5 linked regions of the Homo sapiens genome follow. The protein of the gene in region 2 purifies or fractionates together with the protein of the main gene of each other region. This does not show direct contact. Each region holds a gene or a part of one and is shown on either strand. Other genes may lie near its edges. The genes, in order: MLLT11, ECT2L, PKP2, CHP1 and POTEE.

The links.
Region 1: the proteins of ECT2L (region 2) and MLLT11 purify together in Homo sapiens (affinity purification with mass spectrometry; one large-scale study listed by BioGRID and IntAct). This does not show direct contact.
Region 3: the proteins of ECT2L (region 2) and PKP2 purify together in Homo sapiens (affinity purification with mass spectrometry; one large-scale study listed by BioGRID and IntAct). This does not show direct contact.
Region 4: the proteins of ECT2L (region 2) and CHP1 purify together in Homo sapiens (affinity purification with mass spectrometry; one large-scale study listed by BioGRID and IntAct). This does not show direct contact.
Region 5: the proteins of ECT2L (region 2) and POTEE purify together in Homo sapiens (affinity purification with mass spectrometry, with the first as the bait; one large-scale study listed by BioGRID). This does not show direct contact.

Annotation. Positions count from the first base shown.
Region 1 is NC_000001.11:151,066,396-151,070,440, reverse strand, and holds the end of MLLT11 (protein AF1q), read right to left. Parts: intron 3,223-4,045; 5' UTR 3,217-3,222; coding exon 2,944-3,216; 3' UTR 897-2,943; downstream 1-896. UniProt on the Homo sapiens protein: Cofactor for the transcription factor TCF7. Involved in regulation of lymphoid development by driving multipotent hematopoietic progenitor cells towards a T cell fate.
Region 2 is NC_000006.12:138,875,904-138,880,124, reverse strand, and holds part of ECT2L (epithelial cell-transforming sequence 2 oncogene-like), read right to left. Parts: intron 3,654-4,221; coding exon 3,567-3,653; coding exon of another isoform or gene 3,546-3,566; exon of another isoform or gene 3,527-3,545; intron 1-3,526.
Region 3 is NC_000012.12:32,792,321-32,795,802, reverse strand, and holds part of PKP2 (plakophilin-2), read left to right. Parts: intron 1-3,071; coding exon 3,072-3,159; intron 3,160-3,310; coding exon 3,311-3,379; coding exon of another isoform or gene 3,380-3,482. UniProt on the Homo sapiens protein: A component of desmosome cell-cell junctions which are required for positive regulation of cellular adhesion.
Region 4 is NC_000015.10:41,254,909-41,259,129, forward strand, and holds part of CHP1 (calcineurin B homologous protein 1), read left to right. Parts: intron 1-1,791; exon of another isoform or gene 1,792-1,902; intron 1,903-2,001; coding exon 2,002-2,082; intron 2,083-4,221. UniProt on the Homo sapiens protein: Calcium-binding protein involved in different processes such as regulation of vesicular trafficking, plasma membrane Na(+)/H(+) exchanger and gene transcription. Involved in the constitutive exocytic membrane traffic.
Region 5 is NC_000002.12:131,247,138-131,251,358, forward strand, and holds part of POTEE (POTE ankyrin domain family member E), read left to right. Parts: intron 1-3,640; coding exon 3,641-3,711; intron 3,712-4,221.

The sequences.
Region 1 (4,045 bases), on a different chromosome or scaffold from region 2:
GCAGATTGCGTCTTAACTCTTGGCTGCTTCTTCGGGGTCCGGGGCGGCCAGGTTTAGTTTGACAGGAAAGCCTCGTTTCCTTATCCCAACCTCGGCTGCAGCTGTTTGGGACGTTCCTGGCTTTGTGCATTGGGTTCTGGTGCCTGATGGACACATTTTTCCAGTTACAGGCCGAATGTAAGGACCCCAGAGCCAAGCTGTCAGTGAGAACAGTGAAACAAATAACTGAGTCATTTCTTTTCTTTCTTTCTTTTTTTTTTTTGAGACGGAGTCTCGCTCTGTCGCCCAGGCTGGAGTGCAGTGGCTCGATCTCGGCTCGCTGCATGCTCCGTCTCCCGGGCTCACGCCATTCTCCTGCCTCAGCCTCCGGAGTAGCTGGGACTGCAGGCGCCCGCCACCACGCCCGGAGATTTTTTTGTATTTTTAGTGGAGACGGGGTTTCACCGTGTTAGCTAGGATGGTCTCGATCTCCTGACATCGTGATCCACCCGCCTCGGCCTCCCAAAGTGCTGGGATTACAGGCGTGACCCACCGCGCGCGGCCTTTTTTTTTTGAGACGGAGTCTCGCTTCGTCCGTCGCCCAGGCTGAAGTGCAGTGGCGTGACCTCGGTTCGCTGCAACCTCTGCCTCCCGGGTTCAAGTGATTGTCCTGCCTCAGCCTCCCCAGCAGCTGGGATTACAGGCGTCCGCCACCACGCTGGGCTAATTTTTGTATTTTTAGTAGAGATGGGGTTTTATTTTACCATGTTGGCCAGGCTGGTCTCGAACTCCTGACCTCAAGTGATTGGCCCGCCTCGGCCTCCCGAAGTGCTGGGATTACAGGCGTGAGCCACCGCGCCCGGCCTGAGTCATTTCTTTTTGGAGGCCTGCAAGAGGATGGAGCATGAGTTTGCAAATCCATTTAGTCACTTTATTTACCAAACAGTTGATCCCTGTCTCCACCCACCAATTGCCATGGCTGAAGGACTCTGAAGGGGCCCTTCAAAACTCAGTAAAAATAGAAAAGGACGCACTACTTATCCTTCCTGGCCCCATTCTTCGTTAGACTGGGACCGTCTTTAGATGTGGGCTTTTCATGGCCTAGAGGGAGGATTTGTCTTTTTTTCTCCCACCTGGGGACTTCTCTAGATCATCCTTATTTAGGGTATAGTGTCATCCTTATTTATAGTACACTGCCCAATTCTGTCCTATCCATATTGGTATTTACAGTTTCTCTTTTGAGAGTTGGAGTCTTGTCTCATTCCCGTTTACATTCTGTTTGGCTCAGTGCTTTCCTATAGCAGGCACACAAAAACCAGAAGTTAAGCAGATAACATATTTGAGTGAATTCGTTTATCTTCTTAGGCACCTAGGAGAATTATTACCTGAAATATAATGTTGGTAGTCAGTGGGCAAGCAGAAGAGTGGTTGTACCTGTCTCCCTAACTACTTTTCTAATTTTAAGTTGATTTTGCCCTTTCATTATCTGTTCAATGCGAAGTTCACCATCTAATGTCTAAATGCTACTCAAATCATTCTTCCTCTAAGTTGAATATTATTATAGAAAGATAAAATGAGGCCGGGCTCAGTGGCTCACGCCTGTAATCTCAGCACTTTGAGAGGCTAAGGCGGGCAGATCACCTGAGGTCAGGAGTTAGAGACCAGCCTGGCCAACATGGTGAAACCCCGTCTCTATGAAAAATACAAAAATTAACCAGGCCTGGTGGCAGGCGCCTGTAATCCCAGCTACCTGGGAGCCTGAGGTGGGAGGATCCCTTGACCCTGGTGGGTGGAGGTTGCAGTGAGCGGTGATCCCCGCCACTGCACTCCAGCCTGGGTGACAGAGTGGGACCCTGTCTCAAAAATAAAAAAGAAAAAAAAGATGTATAAGCTAAGTGTGAAAGCAAGGCTAATTTCTCAGATTTCTGTGGCTTTTCTTGTGAAGAGAGAAAATTAGACTCCAGTCCTGGGATTGAATGTCTTTATTAAATAAACGAGTAAATGGTAGCACAAATCACCATCAATATTTTTGGAAGGATTGGGGACAAGATGTCGAGTCAGAATATAATTGTTCATTTCAGGGTCTCAATGTAGCTGAAGAACTGTGCCCACTGATCAGTATTACGTATTGCAAATGCAGGAGGTAAGGCTAAAATAGGACTTATGCCGTTCAGAAGATTGAATTGAAACCTTAAAAACTATCATAATAGTAGGAATGCATGTTAAGATTTGATAACTTTCTTTAGCTAGAGTTTTCAACCCACAGTTAGGAGCAAAGTTGTAAAGTGAGTAGGTGTGAAGAAGGGACACTCTTTTGAGAAAAGAAATTAGCTACTTCTAAAATGATTCAATTATTTTCCCTATTTTCATTTTCCATAATATTTCCTCCTGTTTTATACCTCTAACTACCCTCCTGATTTCTCTGAGGAAAAAAAAGAATATAAGAGCAGGATCAAAAAAAAGCAAGAGACTTATCACTTTAGCCTTTTAGAAATACTGTTTCGTAGCAGATAACCTCAAATTAAAACTTCCGAGGTTTTCATCACCCCTTGAAGAAATATTTGTGTTTACTGCCCTGGAGCAGGAAATTAGGAAGGTTTAAGGAATCTCTGAAGCTGATTATAATAGAGTCAAAAATCAGTCTTCCATTTTGCACTACTATACTACTCTCAGGTGTCCCCAGTCAGGCCTAGTTTCTGGAGTTAATATTTGGGGGGGAAAGGAGGAATCCCTGTGACCCAGTACTCCATTGCTTGAACCATTTACTTTGTGACTTGAGGGCTTTTGAGAGAAATGGAGTAGACAGATAGATAAATAAATACATAGAACTCAACTCTGGCAGATTCATCAGCACCACCAACACAGTAGGGAGAGAACAAGATTAAAATGGGAAAGGAGTGGAAAGGAAGGGGCTTGAGAGGGAAGACAATGAGGGCAAGGTGATGGGAGAGAGAAGTCTTGGCCTTAGAGCAAGTCCAGTTCGAAGGAGTGGATGCTGGCAATGGGAGCTCTCCAGAAGTTGAAGGTGCTGTACTCAAGGAGGCCATCACCTTCAGGGTTTTTCTCCTGGTCTGCTGCAGTTGCTTGCCCGATCATTTTGCCAACGCTGCTGTCTTTGACCTTGTAGGTGGCTGTATCTGACAGACCCAGGCCTTCCAGCTCCGACAGATCCAGTTCTGGGATGGGCATCCTCCAGAAAAGAAAGGAACTGTACTGGCTACTCACAGGGTCCCTCATAGCTTCCTAGAAAGAAACCACTTGTCAGTCTTCATGCTACAGCAACTTCTTTGTGGCCCATGGCCTTTCCTTGCTTAGATACTCCACATACTGGTAAAAAGGAATTTCTTTTTTTTTTTTTTTTCTATTAAAGAAAGAAAATTGTATATCCTCCAATCCCACCAGTAAAAAGGAATTTGGGGAGGAAAAAAAAGAAACTCACCATCCCCAATTGCCTCTGGAGAGAATCCAAGTTCCCTTGGACAAGCTTCAGAAACCCTTTATTATGAATTTCTACTTTTTTTTTTTTTTTCTCTCAATGAGACGGAGTCTTGCTCTGTCGCCCAGGCTGGAGTGCAGTGGCACGATCTTGGCTCACTGCAAGCTCCACCTCCTGGGCTCACACCATTCTCCTGCCTCAGCCTCCCGAGTATCTGGGACTACAGGTGCCCACCACCACGCCCGGCCAATGTTTTGTATTTTTTAGTAGAGACGGGGTTTCACCATGTTAGCCAGGATGGTCTCGATCTCCTGACCTCGTGATCTGCCTGCTTCGGCCTCCCAAAGTGCTGGGATTACAGGTGTGAGCCACCGCGCCCGGCCGAATTTCTACTATTTTCTAAACTTCCCATCTTGGAATGACTTATTTACCATCTATTGCATCAAATTGATCTTGGGTCTGATTTTCAAGGCCTTCCAAAATCTAGCCCATTCTTCCCAGCAGTGGTATATCCTCTGTTACAGTTATGCTCATTCCTGTCTTGCTTAACTCTCTCCATTCTCCACCTTAAAATACTTTCCGCATTTCAGCCAGGTGTGGTGGCTCATGCCTGTGATCTCAGAAGTTTGG
Region 2 (4,221 bases):
AAATCTGAAGCATATGCTCTTCTTTCAGTATTAAGGATCTAACTTCAGTATGAAGGATAGACTTGGAGCTATGAGCCCATCTCTCCTGGCTAGCCAGGTTGCCAGATGTGCTATGTTATGTTTCCAACTGTTGTTTTGTGTATTTATTTATTTTATTTTATTTTTTTCTTTTGATATGGAGTCTTACTCTCTTTTCCAGGCTGGAGTGCAGTGGTGTGATCTCAGCTCACTGCAACCTCCGCCTCCTGGGTTCAAGCAATTCTCCTGCCTCAGCCTCCCGAGTAGCTGGGACTACAGGTGCATGCCACCATGCCCAGCTAATTTTTGTGTTTTTGGTAGAGACGGGGTTTCACCATGTTGGCCAGAATGTTCTCGATCTCTTGACCTTGTGATCCACCCACCTCAGCCTCCCAAAGTGCTGGGATTACAGGCATGAGCCACCTTGCCCAGCCTCTTGTTTTATTTTTTAATGCAGAGGTGAAAATCATACACTGGCCTAAAGAAATTCCATACCCTGATGTTGTGTGTGCTATGTTTATATGGAGAGAGAAATTAATTTTTATTGCTGGTACTAGATAATTTTTTTCTTTTATTTGCATATTTCAAAAGCTATAAAATGAGCATCTTTATACCAGAAAATTTATAATATCTAAATTTCAAAAACATAATGTCCTTCAATTTTAGCCTAGAATTATTATTTTCCCTCCAGCCCTAAGTATACCCCACACTGCCCCCAATAAAATATGACAATACTGCTTCTGCCACTTGTGCTGCTTGCGGACCTGAGGTGACTCCAGCACTCAGCATGGTGAACAGAAAGCTCAAGGAAGGGTCAGAACTGCTCATATTAATTTTAGGGTGGTGGGCAGGATGGTTCCTTGGTGCAATTTAAGATTAACAGGCATACACCACTTAGTAAACTAATGAAAGCCTATTGTGAATAGCAAGGCTTGTCAATGAGGCGGATCAGATTCCAATTTGTCAGATGGCCAATCAATGAAACAGACACACCTGCAGAGTTGGAAGTGGAGGTTAAAGATACAATTGATGTGTTTCAGCAGCAGGCAGGAGGGGTCCAGTAAAAAGAGAACTTGCTATTTTACGCCAGAGGCTATTCTTACAGACCAAGACTGCATTCTCAACTAAAAAACTGCAATCTGGTTCCACTACATCCTAACTATTACAGTATAGTTTGCTCTATTCTTTCATTTCCTTCCCCATTCCTTTATTGTACATAAGGTAACTGATGAATATGCACAAGCATTTTTAAAAAAATTAGTGGCTAATGGTATGGCTAATGTATTCGTGGCTAATGGTATACCATCAACATCAAATGGAGATGAGAAGGGGAAAAATGCTTCTGTGAAAAGACCTCCTTGGCCACGTGCGGTGGCTCATGCCTGTAATCCCAGCACCTTGGGAGGCTGAGGCGGGTGGATCACCTGAGCTCAGGAGTTCGAGACCAGCCTGACCAACATGGCAAAACTCTGTCTCTACTAAAAATACAAAAATTAGCTGGGTGTGGTAGCACATGCCTGTAATCCCAGCTACTCAGGAGGCTGAGGCAGTAGAATCACTGGAACCTGGGAGGCAGAGGTTGCAGTGAGCCGAGGTCATGCCACCGCACTCCAGCCTGGGCAACAGAGCGAGACTCCATCTCAAAAAACAAAAACAAAAACAAAAGGACCTCCTTTCTCCCTTCGTGGCATGCTCATTCAGCAGTTATCTTTATATTCCAATCTGTTATCTTGCTCTCATTGTTTTAACAACAGCAATATATGTATATATGTATGTGTGTGTGTGTGTGTGTGTGTGTGTATATATATATGTATCTAAATCCTTGCATACCTTGTTCAATTGGAGAATTCTCATGTTTTTCATTTATCATTGTAACACAAAGGGCACATTTTATAACGTTTTCGTACATACCTCTTATATGTAGGGCAATCTGTCTTTAAGTGAGGATCCATTAGTTGATAAAAATGATTACCAGATAGTTTTTCCTTCAAGTCAAACACCTTGTTGTTTAAATAAGTGCCTTGTTTAAAATGAAAAAATGTGTAATGCTATGTGATCTTCACCAAGATGAGTTAACCATAATTTCATTAACTGGAATTATAATGTAAAAAAACTTAAGAGAAAAATGAGAGAACTCACTGTATTTGAAATATTATAAACACACTCTTCTTTTTTTACATTTTTTATTTTGAGACAGGGTCTCCCTCTGTCACCCAGGCTGAAGTGCAGTAGTGCACTCATGGCTCACTGCAGCCTCGACCTCCCGGGCTCAAGCAATCCTCCTGCCTCAGCCACCAGAGTAGCCACCACAACAGGCTAATTTTTGTAATTTTTTTGTAGAGACAGGGTTTTTCTATGTTGCCCAGGCTGGTCTCAAACTCCTCTGCTTAAGCGATGCACCTGCCTTGGCCTCCGAAAGTGCTGGGATTACAAACATGAGCTGCCAAACTCTTCTTGTTTATTTTCCAAACACATGGTCTGTCTAGAATACCTATTTAGACATATCTAATAAGGTAAAAAATACATCTGCATCCTACTTGGCAGTTGGCTTACAGTCCATATTATTTTTTTAATATTATATGTGTATTTCTGTATGTATATATTTTTACATATTGGAGTTATCCAACATTTATAATCATTTTGAACTAAGGTTTTCATTGTCAAACCTTGTGTTGTTATCTTGAAACCACTATGAGGTATTATTACTAATAGTCAGATGAGATACCCTCATATCCACTGCTCTATGGAACATGCTCCTCCTGGGTGTTCCTAGGGATGGGTTTGGGGCAAGTGGGCATCCATGTCCTGGGGCTCCACGGCCTGCACTGTCTGCAGCCAGGGTGTCTGGGGCTGGGAAAGAGCCCCAGGTCTGAGCTCAGGGCTGCAGGACTTAAGATTTTTCTTGCCCAATTGTCTGGCCTTAGGGAAGTCATTTGACTTTTTTCCCCCATGTAACTTTTCTTAACTCTAGTTCTTTATCTATAAAATGTGGCTAGGGATGTGTCCTTTATAGGATTCTGAGAATGAAAGGTGATAATAAGTGTGTTTGTGTGTTGAAGAAAACAAAACAGTGTGCCCATGCCGTGGGTTACACAGGACGAGACCGGCCCCTGCTGAGGCTGCAGCTTCCTCCACACTTTACCCTTGACACAGAAAGACGGAGCCCTAGACATTGTGTTCATTAGATTCAACTTTTGAAGTCAGACTGTAAGTTGGTAGATTAATTAGAAACTGTGAGCCTTTGTCCATGTGCCATTTCTTTAAAAGACATCCTAGTACCATAAAGGAAAGTCAGGGAGTAACATACAGATTGGTTTTGCTCCAAGATGTTACACTGCTATCCTTCTGGCTCAACTTCTTTTCAGTCTGGGGCTTATTTGAAAAAAAAGTCTGCCAGCTGAATTCTCTCTAATAATTTTTGAGGTTTTTTTTTTTTAATCCCCCAAAGGGAAATTTTCAAGGAAAATGAAGAACTAACCAGAATAAAGGCTGAAATTTCACTATCAGGAGCAAAACCAATGGTAAAGTTACATTATATAATAGCTTACCAGATTAATCAGTGCTTCAAAATTTAAATCATTTTTGCTGAGCCTGGACTTTGTGTCCCAAGAATTGTCTTCTACAACATTTCTTTCCTGAAGATTGAATGGAAACTTGGTTATTGGAGGCAGGTCTTGACATCTCTGAAAACTCAGTACTGTGCCCGCAGGAGGCCCTCAGAAGCCTCTGCCTTCAGCCCCAACCACAGTGTTCCCTACACACAATGAGTTAAGTGCTTGCAAATGGGATGCCACTCTTACATTCAATTTTATGTTTTTTAAAAATAGCCTTTGCTTCTTTTGAACTACATAATACTTGAGAACTAAATCCAGCGTAGCTCCCTCTTCCTTGGGAGCCAGGGAAGTGATGCTGGGCTGGGGCTCCTCCCAGGCTTAAAGACTCACACACATTCCTGGGTAACAGACTTCTTTTTTTTTTTTTCTTTTTCTTGAGATGGAGTCTCACTCTCGCCCAGGCTGGAGTGCAATGGCACAATCTCGGCTCACTGCAACCTCCGCCTCCCAGGTTCAAGCGATTCTCCTGCCTCAGCCTCCTGAGTAGCAGGCTTACAGGGCCCACTACCACGCCCCACTAATTTTTGTATTTTTAGTAGAGATGGGGTTTCACCATGTTGGCCAGGCTGGTCTGGAACTCCTGACCTCA
Region 3 (3,482 bases), on a different chromosome or scaffold from region 2:
TGTGATTTAATAACAGCAGAATGTAGGCAAAGCAGGAGTCCTCTGAATAGGCAAGTGCCCTTTTCCTCACTTCCATCTTAGGAGGGGATGTCACACCAGGTGGTTTAGAAGAAGCAGTGATGGGCTGGGCACAGTGGCTCATGCCTGTAATCCCAGCACTTTGGGAGGCCCAAGCAGATGGATCACTTGAGGTCAGAAGTTCGAGACCAGCCTGGCCGACATGGCAAAACCCTGTCTCTAGTAAAAATACAAAAATTAGCTGGGTGTGGTGGTGCGTGTCTGTAATTCTAGCTACTTGGAAGACTGAGGTTTGAGAATCACTTGAGCCCAGGAGGCAGAGGTTGCAATGAGCCGTGATCGTGCCACTGCACTCCAGCCTGGTTGACAGAGTGAGATTCTGTCTCAAAAAAGAAAAAAAAAAAAAAGCAGCAGCAGCAGTGATGACACAGGAGAAGCAGTCAGGGGGTAGCCTGATGAGAAAGTCTTGCTTTCACAGTTTTTTCTCTGTCTTATCTCTTCCGCATCTTATTCCCTTTTGATAATAGAAGGTCCAATGCATGTCATTCCACATCTGTGTTCCTGTTTTCAACTTTTCCCTATTAAAAAAAAAAAGGAGGAGAATGAAAAACCTTGTATAACCAAATTATTTACTATTAGTTAATTTAGAGTGATGAGATTGGAAAGGGGCATGAAGATTATCTTTTTCTCTTTATACAATTCTGAATTGTTTGACTTATTACAAATAGATATGTTACTTTTGTAAATAACCAAACAAGAAAAGAAATGGCTATGATAGCCTAGTTTTAATGAGTTACAAAGCAGATGACTTCACCTGTACTGAAGAAATGTGTGCTTGGCTGTACAGGGATGTACATGTTACCTCTACTACAGCCCCACCCAATTTAGGCCCCTTCTGCTCTGCAGCCCCACTCTGCAGTGCACACAAGGAAGGAAGACTGCATTTAGAGTCAGATTAAAACAAGCCCTGAGCACTGGCTGGAGTGTCAGTTCCCCAAGAATATTCACCCATCCCCAGAGGCTGGCAGATAGTATTAGAGTTGCTCAGTCTTTGTGGAAAGAGTGAATTACTGTTGCAAAACAGAAATGACTTTTCTTCCAAATAGTCATCCAAACTTCCAAGCAAATCACCGTAAGATAGTATGATGCTCATTATTCGAGTATTCAGACATAACAATTGTTGCACATGGCAATATGCAATTACTTTTGGAAACTTCTGGTAGCTTAGCAAGATAAGGGGTGAGCTACTCTGTTACTTGTTTATTTCCGAGTGTCCACTTGTGAGTCCTCACATGCCCTGTCTCAAAAACAAAAGTTAACAAGGAGCTTCTTGCCAGTGGTGTCTGCTGCTCTTTCCTTACTAGAGTGTTATATATCTGACCTACCGTTTGTGGACTAGCCTGGGAACTAATTATCATTTATAACATTACATCTTTGAATAAAAGAGTACCAAGTATCAAACAACCAACTTATAAACAAATATTATGAATATAACAGCCTTGCAATTTAATAACTTTTTACAGTTTTGAATATTAGAGACCCATCACTTTGATGGATTTATTTGCCCTTCAGTTATTACCAAGTGATTCTGAAAAGTCCAGGGGTTACTAATAAGTGCTGATTTGACTGCTCCTCCCTGCCAGGCTAGTATGGAGGAGAAAGACTTTTCACTCTTGAAGGAACACACCATGCTCTTCTCCGTACATCTTTGCACTCTCTGGTTTTGGTTTTATGTTTACAAATGCCTGTGATATGGGGGGAAAAAGAATCTTTGTTTAAGAAAAAAAATCAGCCATGTGCTAATCAGGTGATAGAAGAGAAAGAGATCTAAGGCGGCACTGATCTAAGCCAGAGGTGGGACATTTAGGATAAAGTTAAAAGCAGAACATGGGCTGGGCACAGTGGCTCACATCTGTAATCCCAGCACTATGAGAGGCCGAGGCAGGCGGATCATGAAGTCAGGAGATCGAGACCACCCTGGCTAACACAGTGAAACCCCATCTCTACTAAAAATACAAAAAATTAGCCTGGCGTGGTGGCATGCGCCTGTAGTCCCAGCTACTTCGGAGGCTGAGGCAGGAGAATCGCTTGAACCTGGGAGACGGAGGTTGCAGTGAGCCGAGATCGCTCCACTGCACTCCAGCCTCAAAAAAAAAAAAAAAAAAAAAAAAGCAGAATATGAAAGACTAAGTACAGTTCAAATGCAGTGGTGACTTTGATTTATAGCAAGAACAAGTTTTCCATTTGCTCTATATGGAAACGTAAAGAGATTTTGAAACTGCTTTAACAAGGGCTGCCACAAGAATTTCTTTTATTGACTTGAAAAATTACTCCTACATTCATGATGTCACAAAATCGTATGTATTTTTCAGTCATGGTTTCATGCATTTTTATTCTATAAACATACATTATAAGTATACAAATATAGATTATATTCTATAAATAATTCAAGGATTTATAACATATCTAAAGATACATTCCTTATAAATATCAGGGATTTTTCTGTATAAATTACTTGTTTGTTTATTATTATTATTATTATTTTGAGATGGAGTCTAGCTTTGTCACCAGGCTGGAGTGCAGTGGCGTGATCTCGGCTCACTGCAACCTCCGCCTCCCGGGTTCAAGTGATTCTCCTGCCTCAGCCTCCCGAGTAGCTGGGATTACAGGCACACACTGCCACGCCCAGCTAGATTTTGTATTTTTAGTACAGACGGGGTTTCACCATGTTGGCCAGGATGGTCTGACCTCGTGATCTACCCACCTCAGCCTCCCAAAAGTGCTGGGATTACAGGCGTGAGCCACCCCACCTGGCCTATAAACTATTTATTTATTAGCACTGTGCTAGTGGTTTAAAAAGAAAACAAAAACAGATATGGTCCCCGCCTTGCAGAGCTTGCTGCCTAATTGTCTGGTCACCGAGTGGCCTGACTTCATGGATGGCTGCTGCGGAGTAGCAGTTGAGGAGCGAAGAGGTCTTACAGAACACCCACAGGCCGCATCCAGAAGCCTCACTCATTCTCCCTGATCTCAGAATGTCCTTTTCTTTTCAGCTATGCCTCCAACAAAGCAAGTAAAGCTGCTTCCGTCCTTCTGTATTCTCTGTGGGCACACACGGAACTGCATCATGCCTACAAGAAGGTAAGAACATGAACAAGGAATGTGTCATAGTTAACAGAGCCAGGTAATAATGGCCCACTTGACTTGACCCTGGGAAGAAATCGCTAAAAAACTGCATTTTCTTGTGTGCCAGTTTTGTTACCTTTCACGTTTCTGTTTGCTTATTCCAAAGGCTCAGTTTAAGAAGACAGATTTTGTCAACAGCCGGACTGCCAAAGCCTACCACTCCCTTAAAGACTGAGGAAAATGACAAAGTATTCTCGGCTGCAAAAATCCCCAAAGGAAAACACCTATTTTTCTACTACCCAGCCCAAGAAACCTCAAAAGCATGCCTTGTTTCTATC
Region 4 (4,221 bases), on a different chromosome or scaffold from region 2:
AGTTTATAATCTTTTTTTTAACTTTTTATCTGGAAATAATTTTAAACTTGAAGTTACAAGAACAATACAAGATAACTTTTATTCTGATACCCAGATTCACCAATTGTTAACATTTTGTCACATACTTCACTGTTTATTTCCTATAGAAAGGACATTCTCAGATCAAAATCAAGAAAGTTGCATTTTGAAACAGTACCATTATGTAATATTCCATATTTTATATGGTCCATGCTTCATTTTCACATATTATCCAATAATGTCCTTATAGCAGTTTTTTTCCTAGTCCGGGATCATGTGTTGGGTTTTGTTGTGTGTCTCTTTAGCCCCCCCTTGATCTGGAACAATCCTCTGCTTTTCTTTGTCCTCCATGACATTGATATTTTTGAAGACTGCAGCACAGATAAGTTGTAGACAGCTTTGTATTCTTGGCCCAGGAACCAACAAAAGAAAGTTTTTAAAAAATACTTATTGAAAAATTGGGGGACTGGGTGCGGTGGCTCACGCCTGTAATCCCAGGACTTTGGGAGGCTGAGGTGGGTGGATCACCTGAGGTCAGGAGTTCAAGACCAGCCTGGCCAATGTGGTAAAACCCCACCTCTACTAAAAATACAAAAATTGGCCGGGCATGGTAGCACCCGCTTGTAATGCTAGCTACTTGGGAGACTGAAGCAGTAGAATCGCTTGAACCCGGGAGGAGGAGGTTGCAGTGAACCCAGAGATCAAGCCACTACACTCCAGCCTGGGAGCGAAACTCCATCTCAAAAAAATAAAAATAAAGAATTTGGGGGAGAGTAACTTTCATTCAAAAGGTTCAATATTAGGGCTGGGCACCGTGGCTCACTCCTGTAATCCCACCCAGCACTTTGGGAGGCCGAGGCCGGCAGATCACCTGAGGTCAGGAGTTCAAGACCAGCCTGGCCAACATGGTGAAACTCCGTCTCTACTAAATGTACAAAAAACTAGCCAGGCGTGGTGGAGAGTGCCTGTAATCCCAGCTACTTGGGAGGCTGAGGCAGGAGAATCGCTTGAACCTGGGAAGTGGAGGTGGCAGTGAGCCAAGACCATGCCATTGCATTCCAGCCTGGGTGACTGAGCAAGACTCTGTCTCAAAAAAAAGTTCAATATAGGAAAGAAATATGGTTTTTAGAAAAAGAACACATACTTTGACTTACAGACTTAGATTTAAATCACAGTTCTGCTACTTAGGAGTAGTGTGGCTTTGGGCAAGTTACTTTATCTTCCTGACTCTCAATTTCCTCAGCTCTAAAAGGGTATACATAAAACATTGGCGTGAAGAAATGAGAATAATGTATGTAAACAGAGCAGCACATGATATATATGTGATGAATGGTAACTGACAATATTCGCTTTGGTATAACCTCGCCTAAGTCATGTGAGGATGACTGCTCTTGTCATGTTTGAGGGTTAAATACTTCTGTAGCCCTAGTCCACAGAACATGGAAATGGAGAAAAAGCCAGAGTCAGAACAAGGAAATCAATTGGTTGTCACATTATTTCCTTGCATGTAAATAGCACCTAAGAATTCCTTGCATTTTGTAAGTGCCTAAAAATCTTAACAAGGATATGGAGACCCCTCTAAGTGTTTGTCCCCATATTCAAGTTCTGCAGTATTTGATACTTTCCATTTGCTGTTCACTTTCCAAACTTAATAACTAGGTACGCAATGCTAATGTTCAAGAAATCATTTACTAAGGGACAGCTTAGTATTTGTCCATCAGTTGGCTTATTGACGTAACCTGTGTGCTAAATTCACTGGAATGTGGCGTAATCAAATCTGGCTCCTTCCACTTCTGAGTTGGTGCAAGAAACACTTGGCAGCTATTAAAGTGCTATTCTTTGCAGTTATTTGGTATAATTTGCCACAGAAGTAAATTCCAGGAGGTAATATTCTTGCTAGGTTACACCCTGTTACCTCCTGACTTAAGGAGTTCATGCTAAGGGCAATGATCTCTATCTAACTCAAGGTGATTCTCTTGGCAGCCGGGAAGATTTCCAGAGGATTCCAGAACTTGCCATCAACCCACTGGGGGACCGGATCATCAATGCCTTCTTTCCAGAGGGGTGAGTCAGTACAGTTGTTGGACTTCCTTCCTGAGGCTATCACAACCTAAATTATTTGCTAATCTGGAATAATGATATTGGTTGTGCCATCTCAGACTGTGATACCCCCTGATTATATTGAGCAATTCTAATTTTGTCATTTCTAGAATATCTCTTCTGTTCTACCCTCCTGTGTGTTTTAAACTTCAAATAGATATATGAGCCTATCTTCAAAATTCTTATGTTTATCATTGATGTAAAACTAGACTTTTAAAAAATGTTTATTTGGAAATAATTTCAAATTTACAAAAAAGTTGCAAAAGTTAAAAGTAATTCGGAGAATACTTGTATATTTATTGCCCTGATGCATCTACTGTTATATTGTTAACATTTTGCCTCATTTGTGTGCTCTCTTCTTAGTAGTAGCCAATAAAAATATAATGCAAGCCACATACGTAATTTTACATTTTCTAGTAACCACATTTAAAAAGTAAAAATAAGTTAACTTTGGTAATATATATTTTATTTAATATATTTAAAATATTATTTCCATATATAATCAATATTAAAAATAACTGAGATCCTTTTTTCGTTTGTTTGTTTGTTTTAAGACAGAGTCTTGCTCGGTCGCTCAGGCTGGAGTACAGTGGTGCCATCTCGGCTCACTGCAACCTCTGCCTCCCGGGTTCAAGCGATTCTCCTGCCTCAGCCTCCGAGATAGTTGGGATTACAGCCACATGCCACCATACCTGGCTAATTTTTGTATTTTTAGTAGAGACAGGGTTTCACCATGTTGGCCAGGCTGGTCTTGAGCTCCTGACCTCAGGTGATCCGCCTGCCTCAGCCTCCCAAAGTACTGGGATTACTGGCGTGAGCCACCATGCCCAGCCTACATTTTTTCATAATAAGTCCTTGAAATCCAGTGTGTAATTTACACTTAAACACATATCAAGTCAGACTGACCATGTTTTCAGTGCACATAACCAGATGTGACAAGTGACTGCAGTATTGAACAGCGCAGCTTGTACACCCGTGCTTACTCTACATACCCTCTCTTGCAGACACTTTTTCCCTCTCTCTTTCCCCTCTCTCTACCTACACATACTCTACGTGTGTGTGTATATACATACATACATGCCTACATGTACGTACATACATACACATACATACATGTATGTATATACACATACTTATGTAATTTTTTTGTGTATGTGTGTTCACATAATTGTATTTCTGAACTATTTCAGGGTAAGTTGCATAGTAATGACCCTTTACCTCTGAATGCACCAGTGTGTGTTTGCTAAGAATAGGGACATTCTTTTACATATCCATAGTATAGTTATCTACTTCAGTAAACTTAACATTGATACAATCCTCTTATCTAATCTATTACTCTGTTTTATTAACATATTATCCAGTTTATTCTAATTTATATTCATATTCCAATTTTGTCATCCAATAATCTGTTTTATAGCACTTCCCCGCCTCCAGTACAGGATCTAGTCTGGGTCAGTTGTCATGTCTCTTTAGCCTCCTTTAATCTGGAACATTTCCCCAGCCTTTATTTTACTTTCGTGATATTGAATAAACATAGTTCTCACCACATATGCTTTGTCAAGTAGATTGTTCTTAATGTGGGTTTTTCTAACATGAAACTAGTCTTTTGATATGCTTTACTACCTAATACACTGCCTTCACAGTAGTGAGTAAATATTTACTGATTTGATTAGGTACCTTTTCAACAATAAAACTTACATATAAGCTTGTTTTAAGTAATTTCCTAAACAATCTATTCCTGGTTTATATGGATAGTCTATGACCCACAGGACTTCAAAATATTATATGGGTGCCAGTTTTTAATAATGAGACTGTCAATGAGGACACTGTCAGATAAAATGCCTGGAGAGGAAATTTTAGAACTCTAAATTGAGAGCAAAGGAATTTGCTAGTTGAGAGGGTTGGGCATTCAGGAAATGTGAGTGAAAGTCAGAAGGGGAATTAGGTCGGGCAGTTAGTTCATGTAAAGATGGGAATCAAATCACGTTGACTATGAGGAATCTTATGCCCTCTTTCATTTTTTCCTTTCTCTCTCCTTGAACTGCCCTGTTTGTTTCAGGTGTGGTTTTTATGCTGAATTCTTCCTTTTTTCTAATTCCTCTT
Region 5 (4,221 bases), on a different chromosome or scaffold from region 2:
CAAGTTTACGATAGACTTTTTAATACTATAGAAATGAGTAGGTCTTTTCCTGTGGGCCATGGGAAATTTACCAGGTAGAATGCTTTGGACTGCAAATACTAGATGAGCAGTGCCTAAAACACTAGGAACCAGAGTTGTTTTTTTGTTCATTGATATCCTAGGGATCCCACTTGTCCCTCTTTCAGCTGTGCTGTTGACAGTGTTTTATTCACGTCTCCTTTTGTGGTTGGCTAATCTGCAGCAGCTCCAAACATCTTGTTTTCACAACACAACATCGAAAGGGCTGCTTTTCTTCACATGTGTCTTTTAAACAGGGAGAAAACTTAGAAGCATGCAAGGGGCTTCCTGTAACATTTCATTGGCTGGGTCATACCACATGCTCATTCCCAAACCAGGCACTGGGAAGGTAAATATCTGATTAGCTTAGAATAAACATTTCTTTCTGAGGCTGAGGAGGGGGATTGGGATATTAAATATCCCAATAGACTTATGTTTTTTCTGCCAGAAAGAATGAGGAATGGCTATTGATAGGGAGCCAACAATGTGTGCTGGAGGGGGCTCATTGGAGAAATTTGAGCAGGGGAGCCACAAGATTAAATTTGAGTATTAAGGCATTCTGGTTATGGTGTAAAATGGGTTAGCAAGCTTTTTCTTTAAAGGACCAGGTGGGAAATATTTTGGACTATGTGGTCTCTGTCATATCTACTTAACCGTGCTGTTGTCTGCTGTTGTAGTGTGAAAGCCACCATGATTATATGTAAGCAAACAGGCATGACTGAGCTCCTATAAAACTTTATTTACAAAACCATAATGCAGATTGGATTTGGCCTGTGGCCTATAGTTTCCTGGGATTGATGGGAGATAATCATGCAAAGAAACCAGGAGACAAAGGAAGCTTTTGCAGTAGTCAGCTATAGTTTCCATGTCACACATCCTTGGAGTAGCATCAATGTATTACAAGGTTTTCACCCGTCCATGGTGAAATAAATAACGTTAGAAATCTCAGTTACTCATTTTACTATGTTGGCCTTCGTTATGCCCTTTTCACTTGTTTTGCTTAATTTTTTTTCCTGTAAGAAATAACATTAATAGTTGGCAGTTTTCTTTTAAATAGAAGTCATTTTGTAAATGTTTGTGTTCCCAGTGGCAGTGGGAATATAAAACAGAGGCAGAAGAGAGGTATAGTCAATATGATTTAGTGATAATTGAATGAGAAAGGCTTGGGGGACAGAGAGAAATCTCAGATGATGTACAGGTTTCCAGATTGCACACTAGTATTTAACCTGGACATGAGGAAGGAGTAGGAAATTTTCTGGTGAATACAGAAGAGCAAAGAGCAGCAGGTCAGCAGGAATGACTAATGTTTTTCGATGCATGTTTAATGGAATATTCGTGTAGGGTATTTTGAGTAGGTAATTGGATAATCAGCATTTATAACTCGCATCCTACTAGTTTGACTCTAAGTAATAAGACTTGTCAAAGATCCAAGAATCTGAAAGTCAGTAATAAATGTCCATGTGCATCATCGTCCGTGACAGAAAGTCAGCATCCACAGAACACAGAATTGGGACAGATGAACTTAATAGATAAAGATGAATATCGGAGTTGTTCCTCTTAGGGAATGATACTCTCCATGACCTGTGTGAGTCACAGCTGCCAGAAAAGAAAGAGCAAGGAGCGTATGAAGGCAGCACAGCAAATTCGGTCCTAGAGTGCCCTGCTTGGCTTCATGTCATAGTTCTGACTTCTAAATAATCATTTTCTGCAAAATGTGCTTTGTGTTTTTCCCTCTTGCCGCCTGCAGCCAATCAGAATCTTTTTAGCAGGACATAATGAAAAGAAGTAAGAGAAAGAGTGTTTTTTTGTAATGGGATAGTATTTAACGTAAACTTGAGAGTGAGTACCAGGATTATACTTAGAATTTATGGACTGGATGGGAAGACTGGATAGAAATCTAAAGATTGCTGACTCAAACACAATGTGGTTTCTTTGATTTATTTTCACAGCTCTGAATTCACGACTGTTAATTGTATTCATATGCATTATAACTTTACAAAGCATCTTCCGAAACCAAATATTTACTGATTTATTATAATTTGTATGACTTTATTATAGAACTGACTTTCCAAGTGTTCATGAGAATTGTTTAGAATTTGCTACATTGTATCATCTCAGCTGTGTCCACATGAGCTATCTGTCACCTTGTCTTAATGAATAATTGTTCACTAGGAATATTGGTTTTGGCATTGAAATGATCTATATCTAAATGCAGATAGGACCCGGGACCACTTTTGAACATTAATGTTCAAGCATCTTAAAATTACACATAATGCTTTCATAATCTGACTTCTGCCCCACTCTCCATCTTTAGCCCTTTTCCCTGTGTGCCCTGTCTCTGGCATTACTGAACTGCTGGCAGTGCCCTACTCACTCATCCTTCTATTGTAGGCAAATACTTTCACTCTTTCAGGAGTCGCTCCCGCTCTTGCTGCTGCGTGGCATGCCGTCACCCTTTCCTGCCCTCTACACCTTTTAATCTGGCTAGTCTCAATATTTAAGTCTCTGCTTGGGCATGTGTTCTAGAAAAGCCATCTCTGACATGCTTTATTTTAATTCTTTTTAAACCCTAATGCCTAGCATGTATTTAGCAGGACTCAATAAAATATTTCTGAGTAAAACAAAGACTGTTTTTACAAAGATGATGTGCAAGACTCTCCCCTGCAGTCTTGGAGCAGAGGGGACAGACGTGGAGGAATAATGTACAGTTTAGGTGGTCAAGATGCAGTAGAAAAATCAGTAAAGTACTAAGGCAGCCTCAAGGAAGGAGGTACCTGTTTATTTGGGGAAAGACATGCAGAATCAAGGAAAACTTCATATAGCATTGTTTCAAAAGATGAAAATAAGGCCAGGTGTGGTGGCTCACACCTGTAATCCCAGCACTTTCAGAGGGAATCACGAGGTCAGGAGATCGAGACCATCCTGTCCAATGGTGAAACCCCATCTCTACTAAAAATACAAAAATCAGCTGGGTGTGGTGGTGCTTGCCTGTAATCACAGTTACTCAGGAGACTGAAGCAGGAGAATCACTTGAACCAGGGTCGCGGAGGTTGCAGTGAGCTGATCACACCACTGCATTCCAGCCTGGTGACAGAGGAAGACTCTAGCTCATAAAAAAAAAAAAAGAAAAAAGAAAAAAAGAAAATAAATTTGTCAGAATAGTGGAGAGAAACATTTTAGATATTAGGAAGATGTTGTACACTAATAAAGGTGTCAGCAGTGATTTTGGAAATCATTTATAAGGTACTATTAGGAAGTGGAGAACAGTACACTGTGTCACCTTATATGTTTCTACTGTATTTTAAAGCTGTGTTTCTGGTGGTTTTGTTCATGGATGTTGGGTGGATGAATTTGTGAGGGAATTTTTGACATGTTTGTTTGTCTTCAATCTGGTGACATCTGCTATCTCCCCAAGTGGGTTTTTGAAGTTTTTGAGAATTATTTCTTAAATGACAATTTCACAAAAGATGAAACACTCAATTTATGAAATAAAATGAAATGTCTCAAATCTGTTTTTAAAAGGCAATAGTTTTTAACTGTTTTAAGTGGTTGATTTTAACTGAATGTATGGATTTTTCAACAGAACAAGACTTAAAGCTGACATCAGAGGAAGAGTCACAAAGGCTTAAAGGCAGTGAAAATGGCCAGCCAGAGGCATGGAAACTTTTAAATTTAAACTTTTGTTTAATGTTGTGTTTTTTTTGCCTTAATAATATTAGATAGTCCAAATGAAATTACCTTTCAGACTAGGCTTTGAGAATCAGTAGATTGTTTTTTTAAGAATCTTTTGGCCAGGCAAGGTGGCTCACGCCTGTAATCCCAGCACTTTGAGAGGCTGAGGCAGGTGGATCACGAGGTCTGGAGATCGAGACCATCCTGGCTAACATGGTGAAACCCCGTCTCTAGTAAAAATACAAAAACTTAGCTGGGCGTGGTGGTGGGTGCCTGTAGTCCCAGCTACTCGGGAGGCTGAGGCAGGAGAATGGCATGAACCCAGGAGAGGGAGCTTGCAGTGAGCCGACATCCACCACTACACTCCAGCCTGGGTGACAGAGCGAGACTCCATGTGAAAAAAAAAAAAAAAAATTTTAATAGATTCTTAAAATTTATTGTAATAAAATCAGCAACCTTATTAACAGAAGAATCAATAGATTCTAATTTAAT